4 linked regions of the Homo sapiens genome follow. The protein of the gene in region 3 interacts with the protein of the main gene of each other region in a pairwise test. Each region holds a gene or a part of one and is shown on either strand. Other genes may lie near its edges.

Region 1 (8,952 bases), on a different chromosome or scaffold from region 3:
TCCGCCTACCTCAGCATCCCAGAGTGCTGGGATTACAGGCGTGAACCACTGCACTTGGCCTAAAATAAGTTTTAAAAAGTATTGTTCTTGGCTGGGCGCGGTGGTTCACACCTGTAATCCCAGCATTCTGGGAGGCTGATGCAGGTGGATCACGAGGTCAGGAGTTCAAGACCAAGCCTGGCCAACATGGTGAAACCCCATCTCTACTAAAAATACAAAAATTAGGTGGGCGTAGTGGCGCGTGCCCATCATCCCAGCTACTCGGGAGGCTGAGGCAGGTGGATCACGAGGTCAGGAGTTCGAGACCAAGCCTGGCCAACATGGTGAAACCCCATCTCTACTAAAAATACAAAAATTAGGTGGGCGTGGTGGCACGTGCCCGTCATCCCAGCTACTCGGGAGGCTGAGGCAGGTGGATCACGAGGTCAGGAGTTCGAGACCAAGCCTGGCCCACATGGTGAAACCCCATCTCTACTAAAAATACAAAAATTAGGTGGGCGTGGTGGCATGTGCCTGTCATCCCAGCTACTCGGGAGGCTGAGGTAGCGGTGAGCCAAGATGGCACCACCGCACTCCAGCCTGGGCTACAAAACGAGACTCTGTCTCAAAAATAAATAAACACATAGATAGATAGATAAGTAGGTAAATAAATAGATAAATAGGTAGATAAGTAGATACATAGATATACAGATAGGTAGGTAGATAGAGAGAGACAAAGAAGTAGGAAGATAGATAGGTAGGTAGGTAGATAGATACACAGATAGATAGAATTGTTCTCAACACACTGCATACAAGTTTACAGAGCCAAGCAGCTCTAAGATGTGACACTCACAATCCCGTTCCTACCTGAGGCCCCCGAGCCGCACTGTCTCATCTGTGCACCCGTATCTAGCTAAACTATCTGGGTAGCTGTGTTTCTGTTTGGGACAGAGTCTTGCTCTGTCACCCAGGCTGGAGTACGGTTGTGCGATGTCGGCTCACTGCAACTTCCGCCTCCCAGGCTGAAGTGATTCTCGTGCCTCAGCCTCCAGAGTAGCTGGGATTACAGATGCCCACCACCATACCTGGCTAGTTTTTGTATTTTTATTAGCGATGGGGTTTCGCTATGTTGGCCAGGTTGGTCTTGATCTCGTGACCTCAAGTGATCCACCCACCTCAGCCTCCCAAAGTGCTGGGATTACAGGTAGCTACGCTTTTCGGAAGCTCCCCTCAAGACTCAAAGTGGGAACTGAGTGCTCAGGTGGGGACAGGTGCACAGAGCACACACAGGACAAGAGGCCGGAGGGAAACTGGCCCTGGCCCTCCTAAAACAACATCCAGGAGCAGCTGCACCAGCCCACAGTGCTATGGGTTCTGGGGCCCAAACAAGGGCCTTGTGTTTCCCCTCAGCCTGTCAGCAGAGAAAGCTGCGCCACACTGGCCCACACCAGGGTGTCACCAGGCGGCTGGCTGAGTGCCAGGAAATGACCTGCAGCTGGCCCAGGGCAGCAGCCGCAGAGGCAACGGCCATTCTTTTCTCCCACATCCACAGACAAGGCCCTATTCTTCCCTCTTCCTCAGTCCCCTCAGCCCCAAGCACAGGCTTAGAAAAAGACTCGACGGCTGATGAGCGTGTCTCCACAGAAACTGCTGGAACAGAGCCCTGCTCACAGAGGAGCAAGAGGCGGAGACAGGCTGGCCGCCCCTCCCTGCTCTCTGGATGTGGTGAGCAGCCGCAGGCAGAAGCCCCAAGCTCTGCTCCTTCTCACACCACACCCCAGCCACCACCTAGAGCAGTGGAGACATTCACTTTCTGCTGAAAACCCTGCCCCACTGAGGAGCACACATCCTGGTCTAGCACCAGCAAGAGGTGCCTCCTACCTGGGGCCCTGCAAAGGGGCAGGCTTGGCTGAGGTGGGAAGCCCGACCTGGGCCCCACCGCGTCGCTGTCCGAAGGAGGCTGGGCCACATCCGTGCTGGGCAGGGTCTTGGTCTCAGCCCCAACTGGGGTCCCTGTCCCTCTACCCTGGGAGGTCTGAGGGGCATCCCCAGGGTTCCACCCTCGGTGCTGGGGCAGCCGTGGCGCCGTCTCTTTGTCCCATGGCCACTTGACTGCCAGCGCACTGTCCAGCAAGAAGGCCTTGCAGCTGGAGCTGGTATCCATGGTGTAGTCGTGGCCCTGGTCGCAGCCCCACACGACCTGGATGACGCCGCAGTACTCGGAGGACAGTGTCCTCTGAAGGTGGGGCAGGGCCCCGCAGCTGGCCGCATGTCCATGCACCCACCCCACCAAGCCGTGCAGGCACTGGGGGCTGGATGTGATCAGATCCACTGCAGAGAGTCAACAGAGATGTCAGATCCACGGCTGGTCGGCACCCAGCCCACCCTCCACCGGGGGAGGACTCACCCAGACACGCTCCCTCCTCTGCCCCTGTTGGGGGCTGGGCACCGACCCTGCAAAGGATCAGTGTGGCCATGAGCAGGACAAGCAGGCGGAGGTTCACAGCGCTCGTCGTACGGGACCCTCTCGAGATCTCAAACCTCAGCGGTCCCCATAGGCAACTTTCTCTTCCCTCACCCCAGCTCCTCCCAGTTCATCTCTCCACAACAGTCCCAGGGCTGTTGGCACTGAACCCGGGCATGGCCCATTCCCCCCACCCAGAGGCTCCCGCGGAGGCACGCCCTGTCCCTCTCTCAACACCCGTCACACTGCAGTACTGACAGCCTGAACGTGCTCTGAACAGACTAGGGCGTACTTTGCACAAGGCTTCCGGCGACCAGCCGGGGAGGCGTTGACCCTCTGCAGGAAGGACTTGAGAAGGCTGTGGCACTGGTAGAACTGGGCGTGGCAGCTCTTGCAGACAAACGGAGACAAGGTGGGGTCCTGGCGGACAGCCACACCAAGCAGGCGCTGGAAGTCCCGTACGAGCACGCGCTCCTCTGCGGATGGCCTCTCCATGCTCGCTCCAGGCGCCCTCTCGGAGATGCTGCGCAGGCTTCTCGAGGAAAACTTCCCGTGGCAGAGGCGACAGTGACCCATGGCGAGAGCCCGGCCTGCTCCTGCACAGAGCGGCAGGAAGTGTTAGCAGCTGGCAAAGGAGGCTCCTGAGCACAGGGCGTCCCGGACTCCAGGTCCGAGGGCAGCGCCTGCAGCGCCCTTCGCGCGGCTCCCGGACACAGCAAGCGGCTCGGGCGCGCGGCTCTCGGCGGGACAAGCCGCCCTGTGGGGGATGTGGCCGCTGGTCCAAGAAATCTTTCAAATTTCAAAGGCCTCTAAGGCCTCTCCAGCGAAGCAACTTCAAGAGTGAAACCTGGAACTGCACCCTCCTCCCAGCGACCGCGAGACCCGGGGCAGGCGCTGCGCCCTCCAGGAAACGCCGCGGTTTCCTGTCTGCCAATTGCAGGTGCCGCCTCCTTTCCGGCTCCGCGAGGGCACGAAGCAGGGGAGGGCGATTCCCACGCGCGGGCACCCCAGGGCGACCTGCCCGCGGTGACAGCGCTCCTCACGCCGGGTCCCTTCTGGCCGAGCCCGCGGCCGGGGAGGCCGGGCCGGCGACGCCGGCGTCACGGAGCGCGAGGAAAACCGAGCCGGCCGCCCAGCGCCTATCCCGACGCAGCCCCGAGTCCGCTACGCCCTTGGCCGGGTGGAGGAGAGGCCGCGCCGGCTTCCGGGCGTCAGTGCGGCTCCTCCCACGAGCAACCCCTGCCGCGACCCCAACCCGCCACGCCCGGGCCGCGGACCCACCTGCCTCGTCCGCGCCGTCCTCGCCCGCGTCCCCGCAGGACCCCACCGGGCCCCAGGCGCGCCGCGCCGTCGCCCCGTCCACCCTCGGCCCACCGCTAAGGGAAGGGCGGCCCCGAGTCCGGCTGACGCCGCCGCCGCCGTCCGAGGCCCCGCACTGTCGGGACGACCCAGGAGACAGGAAGCGGCCCAGCCGGTCCCGCTTCATGGCAGCGGAGGACGCCAGCAGAATCCCGCGGGTGCTGCCCGGCCCGAGGTTCCTAGAGGACCCGGCGTTAGGCTCCGCTCGGCGCGCTGGAAGCGAGGCGGGGCGGGGGAGGGGCGGAGCGAGAAGCAAAGCGAGGCGGGCGGGGCGGGCCAGGGGCCAGGGGCGGGACCCCGCCGGCCGAGGTTCCACCCGCGGTGCCAGCGCCCCCGCTCGTACCGCTCCCCTCTCGGGCCCGAGGGCGGCCGTGCCCGCCTCTGTCGCCAATGGAGCGCTGGCCTGGGGCGGGGCGGTGGGCGGAGGGGCTCGCCGACACCTCACGACGAGTCCTCCAGGGAGAGGCGACGCGGCCCTCACCGCCTCTTACCGTGGGAGACGGAGGCGCGGGGCGGGCAGGCGCCGGCGGAGGCCACGCGGCGCGCAGGTGGCGGGCGGGCTGCAGAAAGGGGAGGGGGGCCGGGGTCTCACGTAGAGAGGGGCCTGGCTGCCGCGGTTAGACGCCCATGGCAACTCCGTGAGGGGCCCTTCTCGCCAGCCCCGTCTCAAGACGGCGAAGAGGCCCGGCTCCGTCGCGACAACCCACCCGGACTCTGCCGCCCCCGCCACTAACACCCGTGGGGCCCGCAGTACGCGCGGAGGGGGCCCGTCGCCGGAAGTGCGGCCGCGTCCCTTCCTGCGGTCCGCTGCTCGGGCGGCTCCAGCACCAGCGCCGGCTGCGTTCCGGGCCTCCGGTCGCCCGTCCAGCCCCTCGGCTACCGCCGCCGCCTCCCCCGCTCGGCGCCATGGCCGCTGCGGCCGGGGACGGCACGGTGAAGCCGCTGCAGAGCGCCATGAAGCTTGCCAACGGGGCCATCGAGCTGGACACCGGCAACCGGCCCCGGGTGAGGCGGGGCGGGGGCGGGGCTTGGCCGCTGAGGGTGGCCCCTGGAGGGACCCCCGCCCGGGGAGGGCGAGGACGGGGCCGGCTCGGGCTGGAGACTTGGGAGCGGGCGCCAGCCGGGATCCCGGGCCGCGGTTCCCGGGCGAGGACGGGGGCGGGGCGCAGCCGGGCGTGCAGTGACCTTGGACAGCTCAGATCCTGCGGACCTTGGCTTTCCACTCCGCTCGCTGAGCCGGTGCATCACAGCCTGGGCTCCACCTGTAGAGGAGATGTAGCAGGAGGGTCCGCCAGGCCACCTTCCAAAATCCGAGTGACGGGCAGGTCCGTGCGTTCGTGCATTTTTCTGGGCAGAGATGGTAGATTTAATCCGGTTGCCACAGGGGACGGCATGCAGAGAAGGCCACATACCTGCTCATTTGTGATGCTGTTTGCAGTCGTCTTAGGAAGGAAAAGCAGGCCGGAGGGGTGTGGCCCGTTCCTGAGATGGGGCCGAATCTAAGGTTGGCGACCAGGTAGAGAAGCTGGCCCAGCCACACCCGGCTGCCCAAGGAGGGAAGGAGCCTGCCTGTGCCTAGGAGAAGCCTCGTTCCTGAATCTGCTGCTTTCCCCAAGTTGGTTTTTAGGGCAGCAGGTGCCCCCGCAAGTCAGAAATCCTGCCTGGATTATATTTCGTCTTTCTCTCTGAGGCATAGACTTAAAGATAGGAAACTTAACAGCTAGGGATAAAACAAAAAAACATAGCATATTGCTGGGCGCTGTGGTTCACGCCTGTAATCCTGACACTTTGGGAGGCCCAGGCGGTGGATCACCTGAGGTGAGGAGTTTGAGACCAGCCTGGCCAACGTGGTGAAACCCCGTCTCTACTAAAAATACAAAAATTAGCTGGGTGTGGCGGTGCACACCTGTAATCCTAGCTCCTTGGGAGGCTGAGGGATGAGAATCACTTGAACCCAGGAGGCGGAGGTTGCAGTGACTCGAGATCCTGCCACTGCACTCCAGCCTGGGCGACAGAGTGAGACTCTGTCTCAACAAAACAAAACAAACCACCATTCTGTGGTTCCAATGACCTGTGCCTTGTCAGAGGGGTCACACAGCCTTGAAAGGTAACAGTTCTAGGCTCCTGTGTGCACTGGAAATACGTAACTCGCAGGTTCTGGGAAAGGGATTTCTCGGAACTTAAACCGGGAAGTGATTTGAAAACTTCCAGTATCACTCCCTTTATCCTCTCAGAAAAGTATTTTTTTAAGCCACTGAATGAATCACCCTTGAGTTGCACAAGAAGGAAACATTGCATAGAATGAAAAATGACAGCAAACTGCTGAGGTCACTTCCCCAGGCCCACTGAATGAGAATATCAGTTCCTGTGCTGGAGAGAAAGGCAGTCAGAGGAGAAAATGAGGTCCAGCTCGTCCCTGGCTCTCTCTCTCTCTCAGGTCCTGATGTCTTTTCCAAGTCTGGAGAGCAGCGATGCTGCCTGTGCCCTGCGCAGAAAACCGTGTTCCGGCTGCAGCTAACCACCGCAGGCTCAATGTCTCTGGGTGTATCTCAGAGATAAGCAGGTGGTGGTGTTCCTTGCTTATCCCACAAGGGCACCTGGCCGGAATAATGGAGTCACTTCCCTCCACTGGCCTGACCCCACTCTTTCTCTTTCCTGGACACAGGAGGCATACACGGAATACCTGAGGAGCATCCACTATATCTCCCAGGTGTTACTAGAAGAAGTGGAAACCACTAAAGGTACGGCTCAGCCAGCCGGGCGCGGTGGCTCACGCCTGTAATCCCAGCACTGTGGGAGGCAGAGGCGGGCTATCACCTGAGGTCAGGAGATCGAAACCATCCTGGCTAACATGGTGAAACCCCGTCTCTACTAAAAATCTAAAAAATCAGCTGGGCCTGGTGGCGGGTGTCTGTAGTCCCAGCTACTCGGGAGGCTGAGGCAGGAGAATTGCTTGAACCCGGGAGCAGAGGTTGCAGTGAGCCGAGATCACCCCATTGTACTCCAGCCTGGAACAAGAGCGAAACTCCGTCTCAAAAAAAAAAAAAAGAAAAGAAAAAGAAAAAGGCATGGCTGAGCCCTGCTGCTTCCTCCATGCTGGACAAATTGTGGGCATCCTAGCCCTTGATGGGTGCCAGGCTTCGGCGGGGGTCTCTTGTATCCTTCTAGCCTGACCATTTGTAGTAGGTGGACCAGCCCACACTCAGTGTGATATAGTGGCAGGAAGGGACCAGCGTTGTGGATAAGAAGATGGAGACTGGGGTGTGGCAAGACACTGGCTCCAGTGAGCGGCACAGACGTGGGGCAGCATTCCAGCTGTGGGGTGTGCAAAGGCCCTGAAATAGGAGTGGGCGGGGTGGGGCTGTGTGCATGCCTTGGGTGGAACTGGGGCCGTTCTGGTGTGCAGGGAAACTTGAAGAGACTTTGAGCTTTGAGGGAGAGGACAGCCTGGGAGTGGAGCCTCAGGTGAGGACTGAGGATGGCAGTGGCCAGACCACCCAGGATGGGAGCAGTAAACGGCCTCGGGGTGCGTCCTGAAGGTGGAACAGAGCAGACTTGCAGGAGGCAGATGGGGCAGGAGCAAACTGGCAAGGAGAGGAATAGCAAGTTCCGCAATGAACACATTAAGTTTGAGAGGCCAGCAGCCGCTGCACAAAGGATCACAGAGGTCAGGGGGAGCCACTGGACATAGAGCACAGAGGTCAGGGGGAGCCACTGGACGTGGGATCACAGAGGTCAGGGGGACCCACTGGACGTGGGAGCACAGAGGTCGGGGGAGCCACTGGACGTGGGAGCACAGAGGTCGGGGGAGCCACTGGACGTGGGAGCACAGAGGTCGGGGGAGCCACTGGACGTGGGATCACAGAGGTCGGGGGAGCCCCTGGACGTGGGATCACAGAGGTCGGGGCAGCCACTGGACGTAGGATCACACAGGTCAGGGGGAGCTAACAGTTGCCCCAGCTCCCTAGGGAGCCGGTGAGCTCGGCTGAGCTCTGGCGCTCCAAGATTGAGGAGTTGGGTGGAGGAGTGGCAGAGGATCCCCTGGGGAGAGCAAAGTCCCAGAAGACAGAGGAACTCCAGTGGCCCACCGTGTCTGGCAAGGTGGGGACGGGTAAGGGCAGTTTCCGGGGGGAGTCGGGGGCTAAATCGGGGCGGGATGAGAAAATGGGAGTCTATGAGAAGTTTTCTGTGAAGGGCAGCAGGGAGGTGGGTCAGGCGCTGGGGCGGTGGGTCCAGGGGCGAGTCACAGAGAGGCAGCTCCCACGGCGCGCAGAAGGGCTGTGTGAGCAGGTCCATGGTCGCGCAGAGGTGCTCCATGCCAAGCTACGGGAAGGCAGGACTTTGGGGACACAGCCGGTGGGAGATGGGTGAGGCGATCCCCTCAGCACGTCCTTGTCTCTGTAAAACGGCCACTTCCCAGAGGCCTGCAGTTGCAAGTGAAGCTGAGTGAGCACTAAAGGCCTGTTTAGGGTCGAGGCTGTGACGGGCCTCGATGAGGGGCCCACAGCCTTAGCAGACTCAGGAGGCAAAACCAGGGCAGATGATTAGAAATGCGTGGGTGGGGGGACTTGCCTGGGGTCCATGGTGGGGGCAGGGGCCTTGCCTGGGGTCCATGAGGAATAGTCGGCTTGCCCGGGGTCAGTGGGGGGTGGAAGGGGCAGTGGGCTTACCCGGGGTGAGGGGATGGGGGGGCAGTGGGCTTGCCTAGGGTCAGTCAGTTGGGGGACGGGAGGGGCAGTGGGCTTACCCGGGGTGAGGGGATGGGGGGGCAGTGGGCTTGCCCAGGGTCAGTGAGGGGATGGGGGGGCAGTGGGCTTGCCCGGGGTCAGTGGGGGTGCTGAGGGGGGCAGTGGGCTTGCCTGCCTTTTCCGTTGCCTCATTTTATCTCAGCAGTAAGTAACAGTGGTAGAGCCGACTGTGACCAGCCTTCTTGTCCCTCCCCCAGAAGCTGGGGAAACTGTGCCCCCCGACACCTCCAAGATGCTGAAGCTAGCACAGCAGTGTCTGGAGAGGGCCCAGTCGACGGCCGCCAAGCTTGGTGGGTCTCCTGCAGTAGGCGGCTCTCCTGGGGCATCCCCCAAGCCCGCATCTCCTCTGTGGGATGTGGCCCACCGCTTGACCCCTGGTTACCCATGGCTTGCAGGGAAAAC
Region 2 (8,775 bases), on a different chromosome or scaffold from region 3:
ACATGTCTTATTAGACTAATTTATATATCCGTTTTTCTTCTTGACAACTGAGTTATTTGGCTACCCATAGAGGCATTTTTCAGACCAGAACAAGATCTAATGTATTCTAATATTTTCATCTTGAAAATGTGAAATAAGAAAGAAGACAAGGTTCGGAGAAGTTCGCAGACCAGAGAGGTTTTCAGGCTACAGAAGTTTGGCCACCTGACTTAAACTCACCCTCTTCCACCCAGCCCAGTGCTCTTTGAACCACACTCTACACACTGTTCCTCCTACAGGTCTCTGTAAAAATCAAATTTAAATTAACTGGCTTTTAAAAAAGAATATATTTTCAGGTACATTAAGAAAAACTAAAAAATTAGTTTGTAAAAGTCTTTTATTGTATCCGTGCCACACATAGTGAAAAATAACACTCCTAAAAAAAGAATGCTACCTTTTCCACAACATTTTATTTTAAATAAAACTTCAAGTACTCTTACGTAGGTACAAAAAAAATCTGATCTATTTGCCTCCAACAGGCCACCACAACACACAGTAGATAAAACACAGTGGTTACAAACGTCTTTTAAATTTATTTCTGAGGCAAGGCAAATGGGAGGGAAATGTTTCTATGAAAAAATACTGTGTGCGTAGGAAATTGTCACAATTTTATTCCACATGGATACAAATGATTATACTTTAATTTAGGCCCTGGTGGCTTAAAATTATATAACAAAATAGAAAAATGGAAAACTAATATCCCCTACACCCTGTTTCAAAGGCAGGCACTACCAAGATTAAGGAGACGCCACAGTGTTGGTAGAGGATAATTACTGTACAGACTGTATAGCTATCATTACCTTCAGACGAAAATAAAATGCTACAATCCTCTAAGGCATGAACAATAATGTCTGCAAACAATATATACACATAATACATATTTAAAACAAGACTTAATATAAACAAGAATGAACAGTATATACATGTCAATTTTTTCACTGTTTTGAAATACAATTTAACTACACAAGTGATGCAGCAACATATATATATAAATGTACTTGTAACTCTACAGTAAAGTTTCTTTTTGGTGCTTTTATAGCACATCAGTGTAAACAGTTTAACTTGGCTTTGTTTTATATTTTAAAACATTCCTTGTATTTTCAAGATTTAAAGCAATTTTCTAGTTCTTCCTTTTCACAGAAAACGAAGATTCTGGATGTGGTTTAATCATAAATAATTCATAAAATTAAATACATTCACTAAAAAATAAACTACAAAGTAAAAAAATGAAAAATAGATATTTATTGAGAGGGAAAGGAGAACCATTTCCCACATTAGAGCTCTGGTGTTGAGTATTCAGTGCGATTTGATATATTTTAATTGCTATTGCACTATAACACCCTTTCCTTTGAAAATTCTTTGGGTGTGCTTCCCTGTTCTACCTAAATTAGCTGATAAATCACACAAACCAATAACCGAGGGCCTTGGTTGTTGTAGGAATGAAGCCTTTAAAAATGGTATCATTCTTCTGATACTTTTTTTTTATACTTAAGGAAAAAGAAAGTCATTATGTATGTGCCTTGCACGTTTATGTAAATACAGTTCACATTGCTGGTCTCATTTGTCCTTGTTTAGAAGGAAAAAAATAAAGAGATTATTATAACTTCAGCTCACTTTGAAAGTATCTGTCCACTTTTTTTCAAAATACTTCCTCATATTGTGGCCAGCTCTGCCTATATCAGAATCATCTTCATTAAATGTTTCACAGTTGTCAAAAACAAGCCTGACATCTAGAGCAAAGGTTTCAAGGTTTGGATACCTGAAAGAAAACAAATAATTAGAGATTGCGTTCATAGAGTGGATTTGTTTTGTAAACAAATGAAGAGTTAATAAAGGGTAAAAATGAAAGAAAAATGATTAGGATAACTGCATTTAAATTGATATAAAATACATGATATCCTCTTACAAATGGAACATTTAAACATTTTTGTATGTTCTGGAACATACTGGATTTAAAGAACAGGTTAAATGAAAAAATAGGTTTCTCCAAAGATCAAAACATATTTCAACTGGCATTTTCCCCATAACCCAACTCCTGTTTGACCTGTATCACACAATTCTGTCACAGGACCTATCCCACTTGACTAGTTTATTAAGTTCTCTGACCAAATGTATCACTTGCAGAATCCTATTATCCATATTAAAAAATGCTCAGCTGCAGTAGAAATTATGTCAATGCTCCCCATGCAATGATAAAAATTACACTTGTCCTGTAGCTTCTATATACACCCCAAGATATGGTGCTCTGCGTTGTCTTCCCCATTTCCCATTTCTCTTCTCTTCATATGTGCTCTTCTGCCCAAGCAATAGAGTATGATGAACCCAAACAAGCAAAACAAGCATATGCTATCTTTCTACTAGAGGTAACATTATGAGGGTCTGTCTTTCAACAAGAAGCACTGTGGCTTCTGTGCTTTTCTGGCGGGATAAGCCCAATTCTCTTTCTCTGTAGAAAAACAGAAAAGAGAAAAGAAAGGTGAATGAATCTGCATAAGCTTATTAGTAAGAAGGGAATGGTCATTTCAAACCAACTCAAGCCAGTTCAATACATTTTAAAAGATAGCTTTTAGAAATGCAAATTTTAAGTTAATTCTAACCTATGACAATCTGTATACTAAAATAATGTAACCATTAAAAATATCTCATGAGTGTAAATTAGTACAACCACTATGGAGAACAGTTTGTAGGTTCCTCAAAAAAACTAAAAACAGAGCTACCATGTGATCCAGCAATCCCACAGCTGAGTATATACCCAAAAGAAAGGACATCAGTTTATGAAAGAGATATTTGCACTCCTATGTTTGGTGCAGCACTGTTCACAATAGCCAAGGTTTGGAAGCAATCTAAGTGTCCATCAACAGACGAATGGATAAAGAAAACATGGTACTTAAACACAATGGCGCACCATTCAGCCATAAAAAAAGAATGAGATTTTGTCATTTGAAACAACGTGGATCAAACTGGAGGTCATTATATTAAGTGAAATAAGCCAGGCACAGAAACACAAACATCACGTGTTCTCACTTATTTGTGGGATCTAAAAATCAAAACAATTGAGCTCATGGAAACAGAGTAGAAGGATGGTTACCAGAGGCTGGGAACTGCAGTGGGGAGGTGGGGATAGTTAATGGGTACAAAAAAATAGAAGGAATGAATAAGACCTAGTATGTGACAGCACAACAAGGAGACTATAGTCAATCATAGTTTAATTGTACACTTTAAAATAAGTAAAAGAGTAGAAGTGGATTATCTGTAACACAAAGGATAAATGCTTGAGGTGATGAATACCCAATTTTCCATGATGTGATTATTATGCATTGCATGCCTGTATCTCATGTAGTCCATAAATATATACACCTACTGTGTACCTGCAAAAATTAAAATAAAAATTAAAAAAAGAGAAATACCCTATGAGGCACTGACGCTGTGAGATCTTGTCAAAGTGGAATTCTATTTCTTTGGTGAAATATCTTGTATGACCTTTCACTCGCTTCTTCTGTGCGATAATGAAAGAAATATTTCTCTATGCGTAATGTGCTCACAGAGTTAAGTCAGCCCTTATGTAACCTCATCCATTTTCCTAGGAATTACTTGCTTATTTTTACTGAGGTTAAGAAATTCACATAAAATTAACCATATTAAGGTGGACAGTTCAGTGGCATTTAAGTCACAACACTGTATTATCGTCACTTCTAAAACACTGTCATCACCCTGAAAGGAAACATCATACTCATTAAACAGTTATTCCCCATTCCTCCCTCTTCCCAGTACCTGGCAACCACCAATCTTCTATCTGTCTCTATGGATTTATCTATTCCAGATACTTCATCTAAATGGAATCATACAATCTGTGTGGGAATGATTTTTACAAAATATTTTAAAGTTGATTTGAGAACTACTTCTGCCTTTGTTCCTTACCCTAAGAAAAGGTTAATGATTAACATTAGGGAGAGTGGAGTCCAGGAGAGAATTCTAGGTGAGATTCTAGGTGAAAAAAGTATACAACTCATATGTGTGTCCTTCCTTTATGGGATGGGGCAGCTAATGGAACTCAGAAAAATTCATGTAAGTAGGCCCCTCCCTCTATTCTAAAAATTTCTAGTTTAAAAATTTGAAATATGGTTTGTGAGTTTTGGTTCCAACTCATTAATTTGGGTTTAATCAAACAACTCAAAGTGGAGAGTTCGAGGAGCTTGAATCCACTGAAATTTTGCTTCCCACACACCTGGCATCACAAACAGGAATACACAGACTGTTTCCTTCTCTCTTTCTCTTCCCCTGTGACTTCCTCCATTCACTGGGACTCATTTTTCAAAGGAGCTCTGATTTTGTAGCTTTTTTTTTTTTTTTTGAGACAATCTCACTCTGTTGCCCAGGCTGGAGTGCAGTGGCGAGGTAACTCACTGCAACCTGCACCTCCAGTTTCAAGTGATTCTTGTGCCTCATCCCTGAGTAGCTGGGACTACAGGCATACACCACCATGCCCAGCTAATTTTTGTACTTTTAGTAGAGATGAGATTTCACCATATTGGCCAGGCTGGTCTTGAACTCCTGACTTTAAGTGATCCATCTGCCTCCACCTCCCAAAGTGCTGGGATTACAGGCGTGAGCCACCTTGCCTGGCCCATATGATTTTGTAGCATTTTTTTGTTATAAATATTTCTAAGCCTATTTGTTTTAGGAATTTTGAGGTTTACGTTAATCTTTTATCCAGGAATTGGAAGATCATGGAAGTTAAAATCAAGAGTTAATTTAAATACTAGTAAAGTCTTCATGTGTAATTCTTTTTCTTGGCCATGTTAGTTATAAATTTCATTGTGCCATCTACCTAGACAACTATTTTGATAGAACAAACAAAAGAGGCTGGGTGAGGTGGTTCACGCCTGTAATCCCAGCACTTTAGGAGGTGGAGGTGGGCGGATCACCTGAGGTCAGGAGTTCGAGACCAGCCTGGCTAACATGGTGAAACCCTGTTTATACTAAAAATACAAAAAATTAGCCAGGCATGGTGGCGTGCACCTGTAATCCCAGCTACTTGGGAGGCTGAGGCAGGAGAATCACTTGAACCCGGGAGGCAGAGATTGCAGTGAGCCGAGATGCACCACTGCACTCCAGCTTGGGCAACAAAAGTGAAACTCTCTCAAAAAAAAAAAAAAAGAACAAACAAAAGAACTAGTCCATATCTAGGTAACAGTGTTTGCATATTGGAACCAATCAGTACCAATCAATCATTTAAACGCTTCCTTAACTTAGGCAGGTCCCTTCTGTAATTAAAAAATAATAAAACAAAACAGACATAAACCTTTGGACGGCTGTTATTTCATCCTCCAAAGAAATAAATTTGTCATTTGGTCAATCTAGTAAATCAGTTGATATATGTGAGGGATGCTGATCATTATAAGTTCTATTTAACTCTTCTAAATTGAATATAAATCATAGAGAACAGTTATTTTCACCAAAAGAATGTATAGGAAGAACTAAATAATATACTGGATAATAACAATGTAATTAAAATATATATTGTATGAGTATCAGGAAAGCCTCCCAAAGTAAGTAACTTTATTCTTGGAATAGGATTGCAAAGAGAATATGGTAGAGAAAAGCAAATAAGCTTTCTCTCCCGCATTTAATAAATGGAATTTTGGTATTCTCCAATAACTCACATTAAAGCTCTTAATATGTAAAGCTTCCAAAGATCTTCTATTTCTACATTGTGATAATCTAACAATATTTGAGTCAATTTTTGTTAAATCCATATGACGTGTGGTTGATACTCCATGGATGCAAAATACAAATTCCGGCTTATATGTTACTTACTTTGGGAGGCTCTCCTGATACTTTTCCTTACCTTCAGCTTGGGTTTGTGGTGCTCTTTCAATGTCAAAAGCAGGTTTATTACACGGGTTTTTAATTTCTTAAATAATTTTAGTTGGTTTCTCTTCTATACTATTCTACTCTAACCAAATACACACACACACACACACACACACACACACACACACACACACACACACACACACACACACACACCTGCCTCAAAGGCAGGGCCTATATCTTGCTGTTAATTAAAATATCTTTGGCTCACTAAAAATATGCCTAGCATATATCAGGTATTCAATAAATATTTAGTGAACTGAAATGATTTACTTACTGTCCACTACTTAGTTTCTCTCTAATTGTGGAAAAATCCATAGGCTTCTTAATAACTTTCTTATAACCAGGAACAAGTTTCAAGTTTACAGGAAGTAGAAAAGGCCATGCATCCTCATGAGTTTCCATTTCAGTCAGAATCATACTAAAGAAAATAATGTTTGAAATCAGTATCCATACTTTACAACTGTCTTATTTTTTAATTAAAAAAGCTTTCAGTTATTATATATATATTATATATATATATATATTATATATATATATATATTATATATATATATATTATATATATATATATATATATATTTTATATATATATATATATATATATATATATATGAGATAGGGTCTTGCTCTATCGCCCAGACTGGAGCACAGTGGCACCATCTCGGCTCACTACAACCCCTGCCTCCCGGGTTCAAGTGATTCTCCTGCCTCAGCCCCTCGAGTAGCTGGGATTATGGGTGCACGCCACTATACCCAGCTAATTTTTGTATTTTTAGTAGAGACAGGGTTTCACCATGTTGGCCAGGCTGGTCTTGAACTCCTGACCTCAGGTGACCCACCTGTCTTGACCTCTCAAAGTGCTGGGATTTCAGGTGTGAGCCGCTGTGCCAGGCCCAATTATAATCTTTCAAATAAAAACTCAATGCAAATTAACATTAAAAGAAGATAAAGGAATACATTTACTATACTTTTACTTATATATTTTCTTAACATTTATGCTTTACATTTTTTTATTTACATAAATTATCAGAAAGAAAGCTTTAATATGGTAAAAGGTTTCTAAACAAATAAAATGGGGCATTATAAATATACAGTGCATGAAAACGGAAATAATACCTGCAAAGAGCTAGGTCCTTGGAGTCATCTCTTTTAGGTTTCTTAACTGAAGTAAAACTTTCTTGTTTTGACAAGTTAATAGAAGTGTTTTCCTCCATTTTTCTTTTCTTGAGGTCTTTGTTTCCTCTTTTTAGTGAACTACTTGTAGATGCAGAGTCTTCATCTTCAGTATCTCCTGTTAAAGTTACCTTCTTGCCTTTCTTTGACTCATTAGTCTTTTTTCCTTTGACATGAAGTTTTTTGATTTTTAGAGTTTGACCACTTGCCTTTAATTTAAAAAAAAAGTAAATGAGGTGTAAGAAAGTGACTGTCTACAGACCTATTATTTTAAATTATGAAAGTCTGACAGGACAAATAAGTAAAAAGAATAACTCTGATCTAGAATGTTGATAACTATTATTCTTAAGAAAGATCTGTGTATTTTTTCCTCTCATAATATAAGGATAAAATCTAATAAAACATGAAAAGTCTATTCATCTTAAGAATTCTTAAAACTTGAAGATGCTAATCTCATGGTAATTCATCTACAGAAGGTGTCTGTAGTATTCTTTCAGTCTAGGTCACTACTTGAATGAGTTTAAAGATACAAAAGAATTCTCTTTTGGAGCACAACAGAATTAGGAACAAAGATGAATATAAATGAAAATATAGAGATTGTTAATAAGAAAGTTGAAGAGGTAATAAAAAGCCAGGCCAAAAAATGAAAAAGAGCTAAGGAAGTGTCAAATAGAGAAGTCCAAGTGATCAAATCTACTAGAAATTGATTTGATTTTTTTTCCTGGATAAAAGATAACAGGTATTTGCAATAAGAAGAGAGTTCCACAAACTTGTGGTTCCCAGGTGTGAACAAAGCAGTGGTGAAAGATGGGGCAAAAAGATGTCTGTTTTTGAGAAAAACAACATAGAAAGAAATGACATAAAGGACATTATACTTGGAATCGAAGGATATGAATTCCAGCTATGGCTCTGCTACTAACTTTAAGCAAAAATATTTGTGAGGCCCTGTTTTCTCACTTAAAAAATAAGGATGACAAGCCACATACTTGCTAAAGTCATTCTAGCTCTAGAATTACATGCAAAAAAGAACTCTCAACATGGTCTTATGCAATATAACTACAAATTGCAGGCAGCACACTGATGCAACAAGAAGGGTGCCCCACCCTGTATTCATAGAGAAAAAAAATCTGCCTTTTGAGAGTTAAATGTTATAATAAATATAATAGATCATGAAAGAAAGATATGTAAACTTCTGGCAACGTATGGCTTTTATTTTTATTTTCCAAATATGTGGTACACACCAAACACTTTTAGAAAACTACTATTCCCTTAACCAGATTGTTAAGAAATCCTAGACTGCAAAGTCACATAATCAGTGTAGCAATAATTTAAAGTTGGCTGCAATCTTTTTTTTTTTTTTTGAGGCAGTCTCGCTCTGTTGCCCAGGCTGGGAGTGCAGTGGTACAATCATGGCTTACTGCAGCCTCAACCTCCTGGGCTCAAGACATCCTCCCATATCAGCCACCCGAGTAGCTGGGGCTACGAGTGTGAGCCACCATGCCTGGCTAATAAAGTTGGTTGTATTCTTAAAATTGGCTGAAAAACAGTCCTTTGGAGTATTTCATAGCATTGTCTTTGAGGATTTCATGACCCCTGCCAGTACCTTACTTAAAAATGCTCTTAAGCAGTTAAAATTATTTGTTTCTTTATTGGCAGGTTAAAGTATAGTTAAGGAGATATTTTAAT
Region 3 (8,775 bases):
CACACAACTCTACCATATTTAAAATTCTTCCAACTTAGTGTTTTTACTTTGCACGTAAAGCATAATTATGTATATTGATTTTTAATCTCCTTCAAGACCTTGAAGTGGGGTATATTCTTTTGATGGTAAATAGTTTTATATTTCCATTTTAATTCACTTAGTCTAATATGTTTTTATATACTGGTCTGTTCAGAGCCAAAGATAATATAAACTGTATAAATGCTTTAAGTGTCTAGGTCAGAATCACCACTGTAGATACTCAGCATCTACCAGTGATTACTGAATCCTTGTCTGGTAGGATTTCAGTCTAGTTGCGGCTGTCCAACCAAAGGAGGTCTCCACTACACCTGCTTTCTTTTTTCTTTTTTTTTTTGAGACAGAGTCTCGCTCTGTTGCCCAGGCTGGAGTGTAATGGCGTGATCTTGCCCCACTGCAACCTCTGCCTCCCAGGTTCAAACAATTCTCCTGTCTCAGCCTCCCGAGTAGCTGGGACTACAGGTGCCCACCTAGTTTTTGTATTTTTAGTAGAGATGGGGTTTCACCATGTTGGCCAGGCTGGTCTTGAATTCCTGACCTCAAGTGATCCATCCACCTCGGCCTCCCAAAGTACTGGGATTACAGGCGTGAGCCACCACGTCTGCTGGTCTTATATTTTTAGATATCATATGGTCTCAGGAATTTGAGGAATTGTATTGGTTTATTATGTTTGGATCCACAATTATTATTCCTTTTGACACTCAAATTTTTAGTTTTATCCAGTGAACAGTCTCTACCTTGATGCTGGCTCTTGTCTCCTTTTGTCACAACTCCATTAAATTTTGAAAGTGTCCTTGTTCTCTGGCTCCAAAAGAGGCCTAGACTCACTTTGTACTTTCCCTACCACAGAGCTGGAATCAGCCATTTCTCAATCCATTTCCTTTAGTGGAAAGTGAAATTAGAGCCCAAAGTCTGGGCAGTCATTGTTACGGAGGTGTCATTTCTTTTACACTATTTCAGTGGATAGAGTTAGAAGATACATATTTTGGAGGGATGGACATGAATCTGTATCAGAGCTTGTAACAAAAACAATACCACATTTGATACCCATAGTTTTGTTTGTTTGTTTGTTTGTTTTTTGAGACAGAGTCTCGTTCTGTCATCCAGGCTGGAGTGCAGTGGCACGATCTCAGCTTACCACAACCTCCACCTGCTGGGTTCAAGTGATTCTCCTGCCTTGGCCTCCCGAGTAGCTGGGATTACAAGCACATATCCGGCTAATTTTTTTTTTTTTTTTTGTATTTTTAGTAGAGATGGGGTTTCACCATGTTGGCCAGGCTGGTCTTGAACTCCTGGCCTCAAGTGATCCACCCACCTCCACTTCCCAAAGTGCTGGGATTACAGATGTGAGCTACTACGCCCAGCCTAATACGCATAATATTACTATCTCAGGAGAAATCAGAATTCATTCAAATCATGTACTTTTAATGTTTACTGATTAATATGTCAACAGTTACACACAGGATAATAACTGTACTAGTGGTAATTCCATACATTTTCCTACATATTTTACCAGACTGTATTAGCTTTCTTGGATTTTTTTTTTTTTTTTTTTTTTTTTTTGAGATGAAGTCTCACTGTGTCATCTAAGCTGGAGTGCAGTGGCACAATCTCAGCTCACTGCAACCTCCGCCTCCCGGGCTCAAGTGATTCTCCTGCCTCAGCCTCCCGTGTAGCTGGGATTACAGGCGTGTGCCACCATGCCCAGCTAAGTTTTGTATTTTTTTTTAGTAAAGATGGAGTTTTACCATATTGGCCAGGCTGATCTCAAACTGCTGACCTCAAGTGATCCACTCACCTCAGCCTTCCAAAGTGCTGGGATTACAGGTGTGAGCCACAGTGCCCAGCTTCTTGGAGTTTTTTACTGTGTTTGGTGCCCTACTTCTGCACTGTCCTGACTTTATTTAAATGAATATTCCATAAACATTGATTCAACATTATACAATTAATTTTTATAATTTTTAGATTAGAACCCATAATCTACTGTTCTGACAGCTATTGAACAAAATTGTTTATTACTAATTATAATACGTAATTATTCCTCACTACAACTGTTTACCAAAGCATTTCACACATGTTAACTCATTTGGTCCTCACATTAACCCTGTGAGTGATATTTCCATTAGCCAAAGGAAGCAAGCAAAGATAATACTAGGCTGATATATAGAAGCAGCACCATCGTAGTTGTTTATGATGAATGTCCAGTAGAATTAGTCAGGCTTCTCATCAGTCTGGGTGGTGCCCATATCTTACCAGTTAAATATTTTAACTGTCACCCTAAAGCAGGTTTATATAATGTTTTAAATTACTTGCTCCAAGAAGATAGTAAATAACTAGAACCCCAACCCTTCCAATCCCTGTGGTCCTCTTTCCACCAGATCTTTTATTAATAAAAATGGCAAGTTCTCCTTCTATCTAAAATATTAATAAATTTAAATTTATGCAATATTTTTCTTTCTCTAGTAAAATAACAAAAAATTAATACACAAAACAAGAGAGATTGCACCCCCCGCCCCCACCTCAAATTAAGATATGTTCAGCCTGGAAAACATAGTGAGACCCTTTCTCTATAAAAAATTTTTTTTTAATTAGCCAGGTGTGGTGGCATGCACCTGTAGTCCCAGCTCCTCGGTAGGTTGGGATGGGAGGATTGCTTGAGCCTGGGAGGCTGAGGCTGCAGTGAGCCATGGTCACCACTACACCGTAGCCTGGGTGACAGAGCGAGACCCTATTTTAAAAATAAAAAGTATGCTGGGCGCGGTGCCTCACACCTATAATCCCAGCACTTTGGGCGGCCGAGGCAGACAGATGACGAGGTCAGGAGTTTGAGACCAGCCTGACCAACATGGTGAAACCCCATCTCTACTAAAAATACAAAAATTAGCTGGGCGTGGTGGCACGTGCCTGTAATACCAGCTACTCAGGAGGCTGAGGCAGGAGAATTGCATGAACCCCGGAGGCGGAGGTTGCAGTGAGCCGAGATTGCACTATTGCACTCCAGCCTGGGCAACAGAGTGAGACTCTGTCTCAAAAATAAATAAATAAATAAATAAATAATAAAAATAATTAAATAAGTACATGGCACATAGTGTTTGCAATTATTATTATCATAGGAAGTTACCTCAGATACCAAATGCTATTGGATTAAGGGATAGGTGAAATTATTATGTCATATTAATAATAAAAAACATGATAGCCACTATTTAGAGAAAGCTGATGTTTAATATTTCTGTGACATCAATTCACCACTAAAACCCTTGATCTTTCTCTAAATAATAGATGTTAATTTGAGTTTAATGCATGGCTTTGAACATCTTAAGTTTATGAACTGGTACCTAAAATATCAAACTGTCCTGCTTTTGAAAAATCACTTTTATCACTATTTAAATCTCTACACAGATTCACCAGGCATGTAAACTCATCTGCAGAAAATGTAAACGTCATGTGACAGATCTAACAGGGCAAGTGGTACAGGAGGGAACCAGGCGCTACAGACTGTGTAATGAGTGTCTTGCAGAATTTGGCATAGACAGCCTCCCCATTGACTTGGAAGCTGAACAACATCTTATGTCCCCATCAGATGGAGATAAGGATTCCAGATGGCACTTGAGTGAAGATGAGAATAGATCCTATGTGGAGATTGTAGAAGATGGGTCTGCTGATCTGGTCATCCAACAGGTTGATGATAGTGAAGAAGAAGAAGAAAAAGAAATTAAGCCCAACATTAGGTAGCTGTAATGTGAACCAACAGAGCTGGCATGTCTGCAATTTACATTGACTTCCTGTATCTCTCTCTTTCTATGGTCGGAGTCTAGTTAACAAATTTATCACACTGACTTTAAAGAAATGATCTGATATAACTTGCATGCTTTCTGAACAGGCCATTGTATCCATTCTGAACTTTGTTGCCCTAAAATGTGTTGCTGCACTGGAAAGAAAGAACTAGCTTGAGTTGGCTTGATGGATGAACAATTATCCTCTTACTTTCATTACAATCCTCTTACTTTATTCCAGAGATACCTTTTTCTTTTAATATTGGAGGATCTACTTAGCAAACTTTTTTCAAAGAAAATACTTTAAATAAATTCACCACAACCAAACTTTATGTAAGACAATTTCAAGGTGTTTCAAAAACACATAACTACCAATGTTTAATTTCACAGGGAACCAGTTAAGAGCACATTTAAGGATCTGGCAACCCACCTTACTAAACAAATTAGTCTTTCTATTAATTTGAGATCTGAAACAACCTGTCATTACTCTGATATCCTGAACGTTTAAGGATTATGGAAGAAGACTAAAGTGTTTGAAATCATTCATATTTGAAATTTTTATCATTAGCTTAAAAATTACTCTCAGTATTGTTAAAAAAAAAAAAAAGTAGAGGCTGGCCAAAGATTATATACAGATATTTTCTTAAAGCAGGAAACTAATGTTGCCTAAAAGTCAAGGTAGTTTGTGAAGACAATCTGTCAATATGGTTGTCCATCTCTCTAAAGAAAAGCAGGCTGGGCGCTGTGGCTCATGCCTATAATCCCAATACTTTGGGAGGCCGAGGCAGGCGGATCACAAGGTCAGGAGTTTGAAACCAGCCTGGCCAACATGGTGAAACCTCGTCTCTACTAAAAAATACAAAATTAGCCGGGCATGGTGGCGGGTGCCTATAATCCCAGCTACTCGGGAGGCTGAGGCAGGAGAATCGATTGAACCTGGAAGGCAGAAGTTGCAGTGAGCCGAGATCACACCATTGCACTCCAGCCTGGGCAACAAGAGCGAAACTCCGTCTCAAAAAAAAAAGGAAAACAAACTAGGAGGTTCTTACCATATGTGAGTGATTTCTAACGTTTATGTAGTGCTATATTATTTATAAAGTACTCTCTCATGTATTTTCTCAGTGAGGTGGATACTATCTCCGATTTACAAATGAGGAAATTAAGGTCAGAAAGTCTGAGAGAGAAAACTGATGATTGGACAGGATCTGATTTTAAACAATCCTCTTTCAGCCTTCTCTCCCTGTATGTCTCCTGAAATGGCAAAGAATAGAAGTCAAACCTCACCAGTTGGCAGTCATTATAAAAATAAGCCAATCAGAATTAGAAAGTATGAAAGGAGGAATTGAATCATTTTCAACAACATACAATATCTTGATCTAGAGATTTTCAAATAATGCTAAGTAATGTCCCTACAGTACCTATTGGTATGTTTTTATGTCACGTTATTTATATGTAAATTTAAAGTATAAAACTATTTGAACAAATTATTCACTTAAATATGTTGAACATTTTTGCTTCTCTTGTTTATATAATATTTTCAAAACAAACTTTTCTCCTAGTATACAAAGTTTAAACTTCTCCCCTTTGGGCTGGGCCCAGTGGCTCACGCCTGTAATCCCAGCACTTTGGGAGGCTGAGGCAGGTGGATCACCGAGGTCGGGAGTTTGAGACCAGCCTGACCAACATGGAGAAACCCCGTCTCTACTAAAAATACAAAATTAGCCGGGCGTGGTGGTGCATGCCTGTAATCCCAGCTACTCAGAAGGCTGAGGCAGGAGGATAGCTTGAACCCAGGAGGCAGAGGCTGCGGTGGGCTGAGGTTGCGCCATTGCACTCCAGCCTGGGCAACAAGAGCGAAACTCCGTCTCAAAAAAAAAAAAAAAAAAAACTTCTCCCCTGCATAAATTATGAAACATTCCAAAATTACAGCTAAATTAGAGAAGCATTGTTTCAGTTCTAAAGGTAAAATCTAAATATCCGAAGTAAAGAACTGAGCTTCATAAAGGTCTCTTCTGCAAGTTATCACAGTGAAGCTTGATAGAATTTCACTGTATATGGAGAGGCTCCATCTATTTTACTGTTTTCTTTTTTGTTTTTGTTTTTTTTTCGAGACGGAGTCTCGCTCTGTCGCCCAGGCTGGAGTGCAGTGGTGCAATCTCAGCTCACTGCAAGCTCCACCTCCCGGGTTCTCGCCATTCTCCTGCCTCAGCCTCCCGAGTAGCTGGGACTTACAGGCGCCCACCACCACTCCCAGCTAATTTTTTGTATTTTTAATAGAGATGGGGTTTCACCGTGTTAGCCAGGATGGTCTCAATCTCCTGATCTCGTGATCCGCCCCCCTCGGCCTCCCAAAGTGCTGGGATTACAGGCGTGAGCCACTGCGCCCAGCCAATTTTACTGTATTTTTAAATGCCATGACATACCTCAAAATTATCCTTTTTATGTTACTATTTTCTCTTGTTCTTTCATTAATTATTGTCCTTGATACCAATTTCTAGGCTAAATTGGTTACTTTCTTTTAAAAAATTTAAAAATAGATGAATAACCACTTGTTTCATGGTACTTAATTGAGACTTTTTCAAGATTCCCCTGATGGCACATTTGCAGTTGCTTCAAGACTGGATGATGTGCATTGAGTTCTCTGTTCTCCCAACATGGCTGTTCCTAAATCAGGATTCTGGTTTTTTTGAGATGGACTCTCGCTCTGTTGTCCAAGCTGGAGTGCAGTGGCGTGATCTCGCTCACCACAACCTCTGCCTCCCGGGTTCAAGCGATTCTCCTGCCTCAGCCTCCTGAGTAGCCGGGACTACAGGCATGTGCCACCATGCCTGGCTAATTTTTGTATTTTTAGTAGAGACAGGGTTTCGCTATGTTGGCCAGGCTGGTCTCGAACTCCTGACCTCGTGATCTGCCCGCCTCAGCCTCCCAAAGTGCTGGGATTACAGGCGTGAGCCAGCACGCCCGGCCTAAATCAGGATTCTTAACAATTAAAGTGTATCTGAATGAGGAAGGAAACGCTTGTCATTCTCTAGTCTTACCCAATTAATACTGACACCTTTTGAAATTAAAACCTGATTTTTTAGTTGTTGGAGCCAGTAGGAAAAATGGCTGATTTGAACTTTTTTCCTATAAATGAAGTAGTGCTTGCATGTGTGTACTCTAATGCACTTTAGTCTATGATCTAAATGTCCTTTTATGCTATTATCTTCTGCATGCAAACTTTACATACATCAGCATGAATATCCAACATTCACTGAACACAGTGCCACCAGCACTTGTAATTGCCTTTTCAGAAATAATGCTTTCTCATAATTGTTTATAACGAGCATCAAACTATCCCCACAAAATGATCAAGTTCACCAAACTAGACAAAGAATCTGTTGTATCATTTTAACATCATAGAAGAACATTTAAGACATGTTTGTAAGTTGTAAATAATGACTCCAGTTATAGCATATATATCTAAGACGTTAGAGACCAGTTATTTTCTAGAGTGAAACTGTCTATTGATGATTGAGAAAATTGAATTCTTTGGTTTTTACATGTGGGCAAATGTTACATAGGGGTATAATCTGTTTAAATAAGCTTTATTTATGCCAAGGATTTTTTTTTTAATATCAAGACTTGGTTAGACCAAAGTTTGCTCTTGCAGGAATGCCATTTATCAGCTTCTGAATGCCCTTCTAACTCCATTACCCTCAAGAGTGTCTGGGTATAGGATGAAGCATTACAAAAAGAAAGCACCACTGCAGTCATGCCTAGTGTCTGGGAGAAACAAAATGGACTAGACCTGCAGTTTAAAATAATTTAACCCGAGAAACTCTTCAAATGAATTGTTTCCTAAAGATGCTCAAATTTAAGGGATAAACTCTAAAATCAGAGCTGCTGTGGTTAAAGTCCCCCACAAACCTTTCCCCAGACACCTCTGCAGAACTCAGGTGCACAATGTTGAAAACCATGGAATTAGACAACTTCCTGAATTCCCTTTGAGCCTTGCAGCCTCATTTCGTTACTCCTGTTACTCACGGTGCTTATAAGCAGGTAACCATATGGTCTCTTAGTGAAGCAAATCACATCCTTAGCACATGATGTTCCTTCTATGGGTATCAGATCTTAAGACTTTTTAAAATTTAGGAACAAATGTTTCAATATTATATTTTCAGTAATGCAATCAAAATAAGCATAGTTACTGTTTTCTGTACGGCTAAGTACTGCCTAATGGATGAAAGAAGTTTGGTGCTTCAATTATTTATGAGCTCAGAACTCAATTCATTAAAGTTATTTTGCCAAGTCATGCCAAGATATATTGAAATTTCCACTCATATTGGTTTTTAAAATTTTTTTTAGTCCTAAAATTAATAAGTATGGAAAATCACTAAAAGCAGTGTAGGATAAGGTGTGTTTAACTGGCCGGGCACGGTGGCTCATGCCTGTAATCCTAGCACTTTGGGAGGCCGAGGCGGGCGGATCACTTAAGGCCAGGTGTTCGAGACCATCCTGGCCAACATGGTGAAACCCCGTCTCTAGTAAAAATACAAAAAATAGCTGGGCATGATGGTGGGTGCCTGTAATCCCAGGTACTCGGGAGGCTGAGGCAGGAGAATCGCTTGAACCCGGGAGGTGGAGGTTGCAGTGGCCGAGATCGCACCACTGCACTCCAGCCTGGGTGACAGAGCGAGACTCCATCAAAAAAAAAAAAAAAAAAAAAAAAGATGTGTTTAACTGGGAAGGGTGATAATAATAGAATAATAGGTACAGGAGGACCAAACTTTAGATTATAAACCAGAAAGTTTTGTTATTTTATATAAGTGTATCAGTATTACTATTTATCATTTATATAGCATTTTATATTTGCAAAGTGTTTAATAATTTTTGTTATTCTTTACATATATATGAAATAGGACAGTTATCCCACATGAACGGTAAATAAATTGAGGCACAGAACAGTAAAAAAACCTCAGGGTCA
Region 4 (5,697 bases), on a different chromosome or scaffold from region 3:
GTTTTAGGGTACATGTGCACATTGTGCAGGTTACATATGTATACATGTGCCATGCTGGTGCGCTGCACCCACTAACTCGTCATCTAGCATTAGGTATATCTCCCGATGCCATCCCTCCCCCCTCCCCCCACCCCACCACAGTCCCCAGAGTGTGATATTCCCCTTCCTGTGTCCATGTGTTCTCATTGTTCAATTCCCACCTATGAGTGAGAATATGTGGTGTTTGGTTTTTTGTTCTTGCGATAGTTTACTGAGAATGATGATTTCCAATTTCATCCATGTCCCTACAAAGGACATGAACTCCTCATTTTTTATGGCTGCATAGTATTCCATGGTGTATATGTGCCACATTTTCTTAATCCAGTCTATCATTGTTGGACATTTGGGTTGGTTCCAAGTCTTTGCTATTGTGAATAATGCCGCAATAAACATACGTGTGTATGTGTCTTTATAGCAGCATGATTTATAGTCATTTGGGTATATACCCAGTAATGGGATGGCTGGGTCAAATGGTATTTCTAGTTCTAGATCCCTGAGGAATCGCCACACTGACTTCCATAATGGTTGAACTAGTTTACAGTCCCACCAACAGTGTAAAAGTGTTCCTATTTCTCCACATCTTCTCCAGCACCTGTTGTTTCCTGACTTTTTAATGATTGCCATTCTAACTGGTGTGAGATGGTATCTCATTGTGGTTTTGATTTGCATTTCTCTGATGGCCAGTGATGATGAGCATTTTTTCATGTGTTTTTTGGCTGCATAAATGTCTGTCATTTTTTACTTCTATAGATTTTTTTCATTTCTTATTATTATTCTGGGTGTTTAGAAATAATTTTTGGTTTTTTTGTTTGTTTTTCTAGAGGAGCAATGATAAAACTAACTTCAAAAGTAAAAGAATTCTGTACGGATGCTCAGTACCTGGGTAACAGGTCATTCATACCCCAAACCTCAGCATCACGCAATATACCCAGGTAACAAACCTGCACATGCACCCCTCAAATCTAAAATAAAAGTTGAAAAAGAGAAAAAAAAACCTTTCCCATGCATTTCATGGTTTTAGGGCTTAGATTATACTAAGCTAAGAAGATAAAACTGACTGACCTTTGGCTGCAAAACAAAAAGAGTTTGTTACTGACTGCTATGGTATAAATGTTTGTGTCCCCCGAAAACAGGTGGAAATCCTAACCCCCAAAGTGTTGGCATTGAAGACAGGGCCTTTGGGAGGTCACTAGATTAGGAGGGTGGAGCCCTAGTGATTGGGATTTATGCCCTTATAAAAGAGACCCCAGAGAGCTAACTAGTTCCCTTCACCATGTGAGGACACAATTAGAAGGTGCCATCTATGAACCTGAAGGCAAGCTCTCACCAGACATTGAATCAGCCAGCACCCTGATCTTGGACTTCCCAGACTGTGAAACCATAAGAAATAAATTTCTGTTGTTTATTTTTTTAAAAAAATTAGGTAAGGTAGCAAGATATATTAGCATACAAAATCAGTAGCTTTTATATAGAGAGCAATAACCAGTTAGAAGACATAATGGCAGAGGAAATCTCATTTACTAGCAAATAAATTAAATACTTAGGGATAAGCTTAGCAAGAAATGCACAAAACCTACACAAGGATAATTTTAAAACACTGCTAAAAGGCACAAAATAGACTTGAATAAATGGAAATACATCTCCTATTCTTGGATAGGATGACACCACATTTTAAAGATGTTAGTTCTCTCTAAATCAGTTAATATCATATAATATCAATAAAATACCAATGTACCTTAAAAAATGAATTTAGACAAGTTGATACTAAAGTTCACATGGAAAAACAAACATGTATGAATAGCCAGAAGCACAATAGGAAAAATTATAAGGGGGACTAGCCTTGCCAGTTGTTAAAACATACTATAAAGTCTCTATAATTAAAACAGTGTGGTACCATGCACAAGTAGACCAGTGGAACAGAAAACCCAGAAAGACCCAAGTACATATGGATCCTGGATTGAATACCGAACCAGAAAAACAACATTACTGGGAAAACAGCTACAATTCAAATAAAGTATGTAGTTAATAGGATTGTGCCAATGTTAATTTCCTAGTTTCAATAATTGTACCATTGGTATGTAAGTTAACATTAGAAGAAGCTGAGAGAAGGGCACACAGGAAATCTATTTTTGCAGATTTTCTGTTAAGTCTAAAATTATTTTTTTTAAAAAAGGTTTTGGATCAAGAGCCCCTGAGAATGTGAAGAGGGGGCTCTGTGTCAGGCTAACATGGAACACCAGAGGGAATAAATCGCCACTGCTCACATTCCCTGAGCTGGCCTCACTTTATCTCTGGCTGGTGAGCTTTTGCTTGGATTCTATAAAATACACGTCTTTACAATAAATTCCATTCCATGCTTTAAAATGTAAAATAAAAAATTGGTGTTACAAAAAGTTTCTGTTAATTCTCCAAATGCATTTCTTTGTTTTCATTGGGTCTTTAAAAGTATTTAGTCTGTCATGCTAATTGAAATACTTACTTCATTTCTTCTATGACAATTGTTATATTAGATTTCTTTTGATGTCATTTTTTGGCAAACTATACCTTCCTGGAAAATTATCCATTTAATCCAAGTTTTTAAATTGTTTGCATACAGTTGAGCAAAGAATATTTTATGACTCTTACCTATTCAATACTTGGTAATTCTTATTTTGTGTTTGTCTTCTCTTGTAATGTTAGCTAAAATGTTACATATTTTACTACATATTTTAAAAATTAGCTTTGTTTCCTCATTTTTCTAATTAATTTTTCTTGATTCTTTTAGCCTGCCTTTAAAAGATTCCTTTTCCTAATATTTTGAGTTATATGACATTTATCTTATTTTTTAATACATAAATTTTAGGGCAATGAATTTTCCTCTGAGCACTGTTTTATTTGTATCTCAGAGGAACAAGTTTATATTTTAGATATGAAATGTTTTTTTAATACTTTGCATTTCCTAATCAACCCAAGAATAGTTGAAGAGCTTAAAAACATTTTGGATTGCAGATGAGCAGTGTTTTCTGGCTTTAATTTATTGCATTTTTTTTTCTGACCACCTATCCTCAAATTCTAAGTTTATTGCATTTTTATCAGCAAATGCCATCTGTTGTTCCTTTTTTCCGTTCTGAAACTTATGTTTTCTGTACGCTCTAATACACAGTCAAATGGGGAAATGTTTCATGGATACTTTGAAGTGTAGTTACCACTTTTAGGGTAAAGTCTAATATGCATCAACTAGATCTTCTGTATCTTATTTAAATCATCCCATGTCCTAGTTTTTTATCCACTTGATCTGTCATGAATTGACAGAATTGAATTAAAATATCCAACTAACATTGTATTTGTTTCTTCCTGTGTCTCCTATGGTTTCCAATACATAAATGGTTTTCCATTATTTGGTACACAGATATCTAGAAACATTATCTCGTGAGTCACACCCTTTAGCATTATGTCGTGGTTTTTTTTGGTTTTTTTTTTTCCGGTTCCTTTTCCCTAAGTTCAACCTTGCCTGATATGCAGACTACAACTCATTTTCTTGTTTGTGTTTGCTTGGTTTACTTTTGCTCAACCTTTCTGAATCTTATAACATGAAATTAGTGTTTGCTGACATTTTTGCCTTTTATCTACAGATAAGTTTACTTTTATTAATATGACAGGTACATTTGTTCCTATTCTATGGTTTTAGACATCTTTCATTTTTGTGATTTGTTTGGTTGTGCATACATGTTTTTTCTCATAATTAGCAGTCTGAATTTTTCTTCTAGTGATAATCTCTTTAATCATATTTTCATATGATCCCCATAATCCTCTATTTCACTAGTCAATATACCTTAATTCTCTACTATGAGCAATGAAAAATTAGTAATTTACCTGTCCTCCCTATACTATTTTAATAATGGAACATAAGTCACTTTCTTATTTCTATGTACAAAAGCTAGACTGCATCGCCTAATTTAAAATGCTGGTCAGTCAGAAGCTGTTCAGGAAAAATGTTGGCCCAAAACTCATAATTATTTCACTTTTATGCAGTTTCAAAAGATTTAGCTAACTTTATTTATAGCACGGTATTAATGAGACCAAAATCATGGGATCAGAACTTAGTGTGAGCCAGCAGATTGGTTTTATCCCATGGGCACTTCCTGTAGGCTTAAAATATCAATGATTGCTAAGGTGTTCAGTCCAAAAGGTGTAAATAGATCAACACAAATTTATTGTCACTACTGAGAAACAAAGCCCAAAAAACTTAACTGGTAGTTGAACAACTTTGACACTGAAGAACAGTACAAGGAACTAAGACCATCACATTGTGCATTAAACTCTACTAAGTCGGTGGTTCAAGGGGAATAACCTCAGACTGGTATCATGCTAGAACATGTAATGGAATCAGTCAGCCATGATTCCAAATACACCATTACTTCCAATTCAGTTTAACCTAGTTTTAACATGTCAGTAGCTCCTACCAATAAGTGGGCCTAGCTATATTTCCCACGGAAGGTGATCAAGGCAATGCAAATCTGTTCACATCTCAGTTCCAGCTTTGTATGCACAATGGGCCAGTTGCAGTAGGGTTTCCACGAATGCACCCTGAGCTTAGCAGAGGAATACGGCAATAGTTCTCCAACTCAACAAGTAAGCCAGTATACACAGGACCCTTCACTTCCTGGCTCTTGCCTTTCTCTCTTTGTTCCTCTGTAAGCTTTACATGTGGGCCATACTAAAACACTTGCAGTGCTCTGAATAAACCATGCTTTTACCCTTGGAGGGCTTCATCCACTCTTCTTAACTCCTGCTTATCCTTCAGGATTTCTTTCAATGTTTTTTTTTACTTCTTCCACTGCCCAGTTTGAGTTAAAGTGCCCTCCTCCTTGCTGCCAAAATACCCTGTCATTCTTATTTCATTCTACATTGTAATACTTTTTTTCTGGTCTCTTCCGCAGAAGACCATGAACATCATGAGAGCAGGAATGCCTTTCTTCTCTGTATACCCAGCTCCTAGCAGAGTGCTTGGCATAAGATGTGTTCCATACACATCTAATGAATGAAGGGGCATTTCTAAAAGCCAAGACTGTTAAGGCAGCTTTTGCTAACAGTCAAAAGAAATGTTTACCAAGGTGTTGAAAACAGTCTATCACTAACATTAACATCTCAGAACACATATCCCCCTCACTTAGGAATCAGTTGTGCCTTGGTACAGAAAGGATAATACCTTCTTATTGCCACAGGTTTGCAAGATCTGCAAAATTTCATTGACTTTTCTCTTGCTCTGGTCACTCTCAAGAACAAAACTAGGTTGTTATAAGAGGATGTCACAGAAACCGGCTATCTCCTTTCAATCATGTACGCACAGAGAAGGGATGAGCCCATTCACAGTTGCCTGGTAGAGAAACAGCCCACCAGGACAAACAAGTCAATAAAGAGGTCTCATCAGACACTGGCCCATGGCCCAGTGGCCCACAGCTTATGCATATGTACATGCCCTCCAACAGTTCAGTTTGTAAAAAGAGGCAGCAGAGGTATTGATTGGGAACAGACACTCTTTAACATCAGACTTGAATCTGAATCTTGACTGACACTTAATAGATATGTGACTCGAGCAAGTTTGTCTGTAACTGTAAGTGTATTTCATTGTTTTAAAATGGAGATAAAAGTACCTACCTTTAGAGTTGTTGAATAAGT

Evidence for each region.
Region 1: the proteins of ZBTB8A (region 3) and ZNF276 interact in binary tests that used the Homo sapiens proteins (3 or more experiments, as listed by UniProt).
Region 2: the proteins of ZBTB8A (region 3) and BAZ2B interact in binary tests that used the Homo sapiens proteins (3 or more experiments, as listed by UniProt).
Region 4: the proteins of ZBTB8A (region 3) and GPATCH2L interact in binary tests that used the Homo sapiens proteins (3 or more experiments, as listed by UniProt).

The regions. Positions count from the first base shown.
Region 1 is NC_000016.10:89,716,618-89,725,569, reverse strand, and holds the start of ZNF276 (zinc finger protein 276), read right to left. Parts: upstream 4,034-8,952; 5' UTR 3,930-4,033; coding exon 3,725-3,929; intron 3,040-3,724; coding exon 2,736-3,039; intron 2,434-2,735; coding exon 2,387-2,433; intron 2,311-2,386; coding exon 1,861-2,310; intron 1-1,860. Other genes in the region: VPS9D1 (VPS9 domain-containing protein 1), read left to right, coding at 4,709-4,807, 6,468-6,543, 8,748-8,840, 8,946-8,952. UniProt on the Homo sapiens protein: May be involved in transcriptional regulation.
Region 2 is NC_000002.12:159,318,621-159,327,395, forward strand, and holds the end of BAZ2B (bromodomain adjacent to zinc finger domain protein 2B), read right to left. Parts: intron 7,299-8,775; coding exon 7,033-7,298; intron 6,335-7,032; coding exon 6,191-6,334; intron 1,799-6,190; coding exon 1,645-1,798; 3' UTR 359-1,644; downstream 1-358. UniProt on the Homo sapiens protein: Regulatory subunit of the ATP-dependent BRF-1 and BRF-5 ISWI chromatin remodeling complexes, which form ordered nucleosome arrays on chromatin and facilitate access to DNA during DNA-templated processes such as DNA replication, transcription, and repair.
Region 3 is NC_000001.11:32,596,652-32,605,426, forward strand, and holds part of ZBTB8A (zinc finger and BTB domain-containing protein 8A), read left to right. Parts: intron 1-3,435; coding exon 3,436-3,768; 3' UTR 3,769-8,775. UniProt on the Homo sapiens protein: May be involved in transcriptional regulation.
Region 4 is NC_000014.9:76,210,204-76,215,900, reverse strand, and holds the end of GPATCH2L (G patch domain-containing protein 2-like), read right to left. Parts: 3' UTR 1,558-5,697; downstream 1-1,557.